Linked DNA regions of Homo sapiens. The protein of the gene in region 1 purifies or fractionates together with the protein of each later gene. This does not show direct contact. Each region holds a gene or a part of one and is shown in the gene's direction. Other genes may lie near its edges. The genes, in order: AKNAD1 and SFSWAP.

Region 1 (3,819 bases):
CCCAATAGTAAGGTAAATCCATCTTAATAATCAAAATATACATTTTAGTTCTTGGGCACTTTGCCTAGAGTGCATGATCTTTCCTTTGAGCCTTATATGAAGGTGTCCTGGACTGAACCACACTGCCTGTTTCCATTTCCATTCTCTCTCTTTTTCTGTAACCTAACCTTGGAAGTGATTTTTCTCTCTCTCTCTTTTTTTTAATTTCCATTTCCATTTTCACACTTCAGCTCCCCTCTCTTTCAACTGAATGCCTGGGGAGTTTGAGCAGAACCCCCTACATCCAAACCTGAGCCAACAGCCCACCTGGCCATGACTGGGATGCTCTCTAGGTCTGAGAGAAACCTACACCCCCGTGGTATTGGGAAGTGTCGGGGTTCCTTGTTCTGCTTGCAGGAGAACATCCTCATTGTGTCCAGTTCTCAGTGCCCCGTGGTTAGCAGGAGCAGATGGATATCAGGCTCTTCTCCCTCTGGTATGGGGGTTCGAGGTCAGGTATCTGATTTTTTCCAGTTCTGTCAATTCAGATTGGAGAATTGGACACTGCAGGTTTCATATCCGTCATATAGTTGAGATGTCTAGAAAGACCATAGTCCATTTTGACCAGCTCTCCAGCACTAGCGTGTTTCTGAGCTTTATGTGTTGGGAACAAAGGAAAGACCCCACAAGGTGAATCACTCTGGAATTTAAACTGTTCAATTAGCCAGTGGTGAGTAGAAAACCATCACTATCTTGACACACAGTTTGGAACTTAATGCATCCTCTGTTATTCTCTAGAGTGTGGCTACCATGAGTTTTGTGTTAGTGACAGCACCAGCAACAGAGCTGGTGACAAGACCAGCCATGGTCCCTACCCTTGTGAAACTTATAGTCTAGTTTTAGGAGAAATGTTTCAGCATTTCACATACCAGTATCAAACACAATGGTGATAACAGGTAACATGTATTGTTACATGCTTACCACCTGCCTGATACTATGGTAGATATTTAACATTTCATCCTCATAACAACCCCCTGAGGCAGGTTCACTTACTATCCCCATTTTCCTGCCAAAGAATTGCAGGCTTATAAGTGATGAGACAATTACTTGGGTTGCCCAGCAAGTAAGTGTCAGAGTGGAATTCAACCTTGGCATCATGGCTCCGGCTCTTGACTGCAAACCTGGGCTCCCTCTATGATGACAGAACATGTTGGGTCATTCTGAACGGTGGTGTCATTGATCAATATCGACAGTAACGTTTTCTTACCCTTTAATTGTGCAGATGGAGCCCATAGTACATATCCACCAAGAACTTCTCACAGGTACTAATGTTTTAAAACTTCTTTGAGATATATATATATGTTTTGTTTTTGTCTTTTTGAGACAGGGTCTCACTCTGTCACCCAGGCTGGAGTGCAGCAGCACAATCTTGGTTCATTGCAGCCTTGACCTCTGGGGCTCAAATGATCCTCCCACCTCATCCTCCCGAGTAGCTGGGATTACAGGTGCATGCCACCACACCTAGATAATTTTTTTTTTTTGTAGATGTGGGGTCTCACTTTGTTGCTGAGGATGGTCTTGAACTCCTGGCTTCAAGTGATCCCCCCGCTTTGGCCTCCCAAAGTGCTGGGATTACAGGTGTGAGCCACTGTGCCTGGCCTAGATAAATATTTTGAAAAAAATTAAATTTTAAAAATAGTAAGTGGTGGTGACTGCAACAGCTTTCTGTTTTCAGTACTTAATAAAACTGTGATAAGTTGAGATGAATGGTAGCCCAAATGTGTTCTTTCTTGTATAGGAATAGAATCTGAGGCAAGTCTCTCTAAGTTGTCACCAACCTCTCAGAAAGGCACTTCCTCAAGTTCTTCTTACATATTTCAAAAGATATCCCAAGGGAAACAGATGTGTCAGAAGTTGAAAGAACAGACTGATCAACTGAAGACTAAAGTAATACTTTTAAAGCTTATTATAAACAATATAAGTAACCAAATTCACACATGAGAAACCATGCCATTAATGAGAGATTGTAATTTTTTCACTGCAGGTACAAGAATTTTCCAAAAGAATAAAACAGGACTCTCCTTACCATTTGCAAGACAAGAAGCTGGTAATGAATTTTATCCCGTTTTTAAAATCTTGATTAGAGAATATGGCTTGGATAAAGATAAATAACTTTATAGTGCCATGTTTTCTCTACAGTGGTGGGAGTGGAAATGTTTTGCTAAAGATTAAACCATCTTTGTTTATGGGGGCTAAAAGAGCTTAGAATTCTGTTTCTCTATCTATTTAGCCCTCTTTCCTTCTCAGGGGATCTATTACTTATGGCTATTACTCCTTGCCAGGTTACTCATAATTAATCTGACACCACGGGAGGTTCAAGAGAAGAACCCATAATCAGTTATAAAGAGTGGGCCTGTCCGCAGTTGATGGGTACTGGTGAATTCAGGTTATAAAAATTGCCATTACCTGGAAATTAAATATGACTTTGAATACTCATAAAATCAACCTTGAAGCAATGTTTTTCAGGTCAAAATCTTTTCCTTTCATATCCTTGCTAGTTGCTGCATTTAATCAAACCATTAATTTATGTCATCACCACAGCAGTCATGTTGTCAGTGCCAGGATCATGGGAAGGGGGTGGAGCAATGGGGTGAAGGGTAAGGCTGGGAGAACCAGAAGTATGCTGACCTGACATTGAAGATGTAGTTGAGGCCATTGGCTCATCAACAAGGGATAAGGTCAGAAGTTCTGATGTAGGCACAAGCAAGGTTTAGGGAGGGCTGTGCTTCAGAAACCTAGCAGCATGGACAAAAACCAGGGGACCCAAATGCTAAAAGACACAGTTGATTATTCTCTCCTTTATCCTGTTAATTAAATCATTCATTCAACAAACATTTATCAGGCACTTTCTATGTCCCAGACCCTGTACCAGGCACTAGGAATTCAAGATGAATAAACAATTCCTTTTCCAAGTGGTTTATAGTCTCTTAGGAACAGTGGACTGGTAAACAGGCAGCTAAAATGCAGCTGGAGAAATGTTACAGAGAATGCTAATGGCAGCCTAGAAGAGGCTCACCTTTGCCAGTGAGGGGACATTTGGAAGGCTTCCTGGAAGTCACTTCTGAGCTGGGTGTTGCAGAAGGAATAGGGATGAGCTTGGCAGGAGACCAAGGGGTATTCTAGAAAAAGAAAACAGCAGGTGCAATGGCACAGGGGTGAGGAAGTGCTGCCAGTGTGAGGAGCTGTGGGCACTGTGATTTACCATACAGCACTTGGGAGCACGTGGTGACATGGGGGTGGGGGAGGAGACAGGGGAGGTGGACAGGGGTACTTCATGAAGGCCTTTAAGCCATGCCTGAGGCTGAGTAATTGGGCAGCATTGAAGGTTTTTTTTTTTGTTTTTTTTTTTTTGAGACACGGTCTCATTCTGTCACTCATGCTAGAGTGCAGTGGTGTGATCTCAGCTCACTGCAACTTCCACTCCCCAAGTTCAAGTGATTCTCCTGCCTCAGCCTCCCAAGTAGCTGGAGTTACAGGTGTGCACCACCGTGCCTGGCTAATTTTTGTATTTTTAGTAGAGACGGGGTTTCACCATGTTGGCTGGGCTGGTCTTGAACTCCTGACTTCAGGGTGATCCACCTGCCTCGGTCTCCCAAAGTGCTGGGATTACAGGCATGAGCCGCTGCACCTGGCTGCATTGAAGGTTTTCAAGCTGACAAATGGGAAGCACCATGGGGGCAAGGCTGAAGGCACAGAGATTGGTTCGGAAGCCAGAATCCAGGTAACAAGTCAGGAGGGCCTGAACGAAGGCTGGCAATGAGGCTGGAGATGGGGACAAAT
Region 2 (3,819 bases), on another chromosome or scaffold:
GTCCCCTTTGGGAAATTCAATATAAAATCCTAAGAACAGCAACAAACCTAACAAGATATATGTGGTCCCAGCTTACTGAGGGTTCAACTCGATGATGGTGCACATGCAATTTGCATTCAGTAGAACATCAGTAAAATGCTTGAGATACTAAAAACTTTATTATAAAATAGGCTTCGTGTTAGATGATGTCATCCAGCCGTCAGCTACTGTAGGTGCCCTGAGCACATTTAAGGCAGGTGAGGCTGTGCCATGGTGTTCGGTGGGTTATAGGTGGATTCTGTGCATTTTCCACTTCACGGTGTTGTCAGTGTATGGTGGGGTTGTCGGGAAGTAGCCTCGCTATAAGCCCAGGAGAATCCCGGCATGTCGTGGCAGCCTGAGGACAGCAGGAGCCCCTTGGCACACTGTGCCCTCCCCCGTTCATGACTAGTAATGGCACAGTTATTGTAAAGCTGATGTGGCTTTTGCCAGCCCAGACTTCAGTTTGTAGACTACAGCCCAGCTTGTAGATTTTATTTCTGTTGTCACCCTGTACTAGTCCAGAAATTCTTAAAATTTAGTGTTCACGAGAATTGCTGTGTACAACATACAAGGGGCTGTATACAAAATCCCTGTGTCCTATAGTTGGTAGTCAGTTTAAAGGGCTTCAGTCCAGTTAAAGGGTTCTGTGAGCTGTATGGTGCCACCATTGTGTGCGGCACGTGTCAAGCAGCTTCATGGTCACTGCAGGATATTTTAGCACTGAGGCATTTTAGAAGCAGTCCAGGCCGTGCCACCAGCTGGCATGAACTCACTCATTAAACACTTACTGAGGGCCTGCTCATGCCAGGAGCTGTGTGAGCGGCTAAGGTTTTGTGGTCACTATTTGGAGATATGGAGTCCTTGGGAACATAGCTGCACACCAGTCCTAGTGGCGCAGGAGTTGCCATAGGGCGTTGTTTACAGGGTCCCCACGCGAGCCCAGAGCAAAGGCCTCCTGAGTCTGCCAAGGAGGCAGAGGCTTCCCGAAAGAGGTGGCACTGGAGATAAGCTGAATAGGGGCCTCATGGCAGGCAGAGACCCTGTGAGGCCGTGCAAAGGACAGAGACCTGGGGAACAGAAGCCAGGGCAAGGGGTGGGCTGGGCAAGCGGCAGAAGCCCTTCGGGAGGCTGGCCCTGGGCTGCTCCAGATGACTTGTGCCCGTCCTGCCTCCCACCAGGGCCACAGTGTCTGGGGAAGGATGGATCTGACGTCCTCCCTTAGATCTTCACATCCCTGACACCCTATGAAGTGAGAATCTGGGAGAAGCAACCCAGGAACGGTGTAGCGGAATTCATGAACCACTGTGGTGTTGGTTCCCGGGCTGCCTCCGAGCATGGCAGTGCCATAGGACACGTCCCACATTCTCTGTCGGCAGACAGAGAAGTGTTTTCATCTCATCAAGCAACACATACTTTATTTCTCTTGGAGTCCTTTTGAGAGACAGGATGATTTTCAAATTTGATTAAAACCTTGGAGAGAATCACAGGTGTGTGTGGGGAAGAGGTGACAGCAGCAGTGGCTAGCAGCAGACCGCCTCACAGAGGCTGCGCGTGTCTCGGCTTCACAGCTCTCCTCTGTGAGAATCTCCTGGGTCTGGGTCAAGGGTGTGCCCAGAGCATTGTCAGCCTGAGTGGTTTTTAGCGTGGAGCCTCTGAAGCAAGTTGTGGACCTAGGCTAGGATGTCCCTGGAGTGTTTTCAGATTTGGGCATTTGTTTCATTTTTACACCTACAGGCAGCCTTTTTTTCTTTTTGTGAGCTCAGCTCAGGGGCTCACTCCATCACCCAAGCTGGAGCACAATGGTGCCATCAACACCTCACTGCAGCCCCAAACTCCTGGGCTCAAGCCATCCTCCTGCCACAGCCTCCCAAGTAGCTGGGACTGTAGATGTGTACCATGCCCAGCTAGTTTATTTTATTTTATTTTTTGGAGATGGGGTCTGATGGTATTGCCCAGGCCTGAAGCATCCTCCCACCTCAGCCTACCAAAGTGCTGGGATTATAGGTGTGACCCATGGCACCCAGCCTAAATTTTTCAAATTAGCTGACATTTTTGACATTTGTAGTGGATGAGTCTCTGAGCAGTCTGCCATTTTGCCGGCACTGCTATTTTTTTTAACACTTCGTTTTTATTTAACAAGATGGAAGGCTCAGGAAGGTCATATAGACTAACAGTCTGCGTGTTCTTTAAAGGAATGGCGCTCAGCTTTGAAAACAGTTTCTTCATCTCTGTTGTGTTCCAGTGTGATTGCACTTTACACAGTTACATAAAGAATGCAGGTATCAGGTTGGAGCTGCATAATATGTACTACTAGTTGAAATAATTATAAACCGTTTTGTTTTGTTTGTTTTTGTGAATTCAGATCCCGTCCTTTGTGGCCCCAGTTTAAAACATGTTTGGACACTTTTTAGGGGTGAGACTGACTGTCCAGAGCAGGACATGGGGTTTCCGTCCTTCCTGCTGAGGTGGGAGGCTGGAGACCTGACAGTAGCCAGTCGGTAGTGGGGTCAGTTCCGCCTGGCCCTCCCCAGAGCTAAGCACACACTGGGCTGCACTCTCTCCCCTGGAGTGCTGGCTTCGCCCTGGCTGAGAGGAAGCATCCATACATAGTAGCCTGATGGCTCCAGCAGGGAGTGGGTGGAAGCAGCAGCTCCCCCCTTCCAGGGATGACGTTGTCTCTTACAGAAGCACATGCTTATATTCGGATTCCTGATTTTGATAGGAAGCCTATGTTGGACCATCAGGTCAGTTCGTTGGTCCAGCACATACTCTGCTCAATGCAGAGGCTGCAGAGACAGTGAAGACAGGACCTGCCGCTGCAGGAGCCTCAGAGACGGTGCCTGCCCTGCTGTCAGCCTCCCATTGACATCCAAGGGTCTCATCCCCTGCTCCCGGCCTTTTCTCAGAAATGTTGCTCAGATATATCTGTGTTGACGATAATGTGGAGCACATCGAACCCACTTATCTTATTTTGAAAATTTGGAGTATTACTGTTTCTGTGTCATGGTGGTTGGTGTGTAACATGGAGCTAGAGAACAACGGTTTAGGAGTTCATCATGTATAATTAATTTAAATAAGTCATTAGCAGCTGGGGAATATGCCTACAGCACATAGGAATTATGCTGCCTCGCCAATCTAAGATGGAAAGGTCAAGATAGTCTAAGTTGTACTTCTGAAATTTTTCTCTGCATAGCATACATTACTGGAAACCATAGTTAAGCTTTTACTGTTTTTCAATGTTATTGTTTTAAGGTGAATTGATTGAAAGTGAAGATAAAAGTTCTTAATTCGAAAAATATTTTTGCCATCTCCTAATAAAGAGGAAATTAAATCTCTGTGTAGTCAGAACTACTTGCTTATCTACAACAGGACTGGAAATTAAATTTCGTAATTAATCATTGAATCTTCTGTGATTCGTGGTTCTGAACATTTAACCCCAAAAAGGATAAATGTACAGGATTTTTAATTGTTAAGACAGCGTGCCTCTACCCTACAGATACCTGCTTGTGTGCACAGCATAGGTGGCAAGACGGCATACATCACTGTCTGTGATGGAAAGGTCCAGACACAGCCTCAGTGCCCCTGGGAACTTTTATTTACTGAATAAATTCCTGCACAGCCTGTGTTGCTGGGGCCGGGGGCTGACGCCAGGGTTGCCAGGAGCAGCTGCCTTACTGAGGGGATGGTTTCCGGATTAACGTGTGAATGGAGGGAGCAGCGTGCCTGGGGAATGAAAGCAGGTGTCAGCGCGGGGAGCTAGCCAAAGGCATTTCCTCACATGTGCATTTAGGAGCATAG

Evidence for each region.
Region 2: the proteins of AKNAD1 (region 1) and SFSWAP purify together in Homo sapiens (affinity purification with mass spectrometry; one large-scale study listed by BioGRID and IntAct). This does not show direct contact.

The regions. Positions count from the first base shown.
Region 1 is NC_000001.11:108,847,019-108,850,837, reverse strand, and holds part of AKNAD1 (protein AKNAD1), read left to right. Parts: intron 1-1,261; coding exon 1,262-1,301; intron 1,302-1,777; coding exon 1,778-1,926; intron 1,927-2,023; coding exon 2,024-2,086; intron 2,087-3,819.
Region 2 is NC_000012.12:131,748,927-131,752,745, forward strand, and holds part of SFSWAP (splicing factor, suppressor of white-apricot homolog), read left to right. Parts: intron 1-3,819.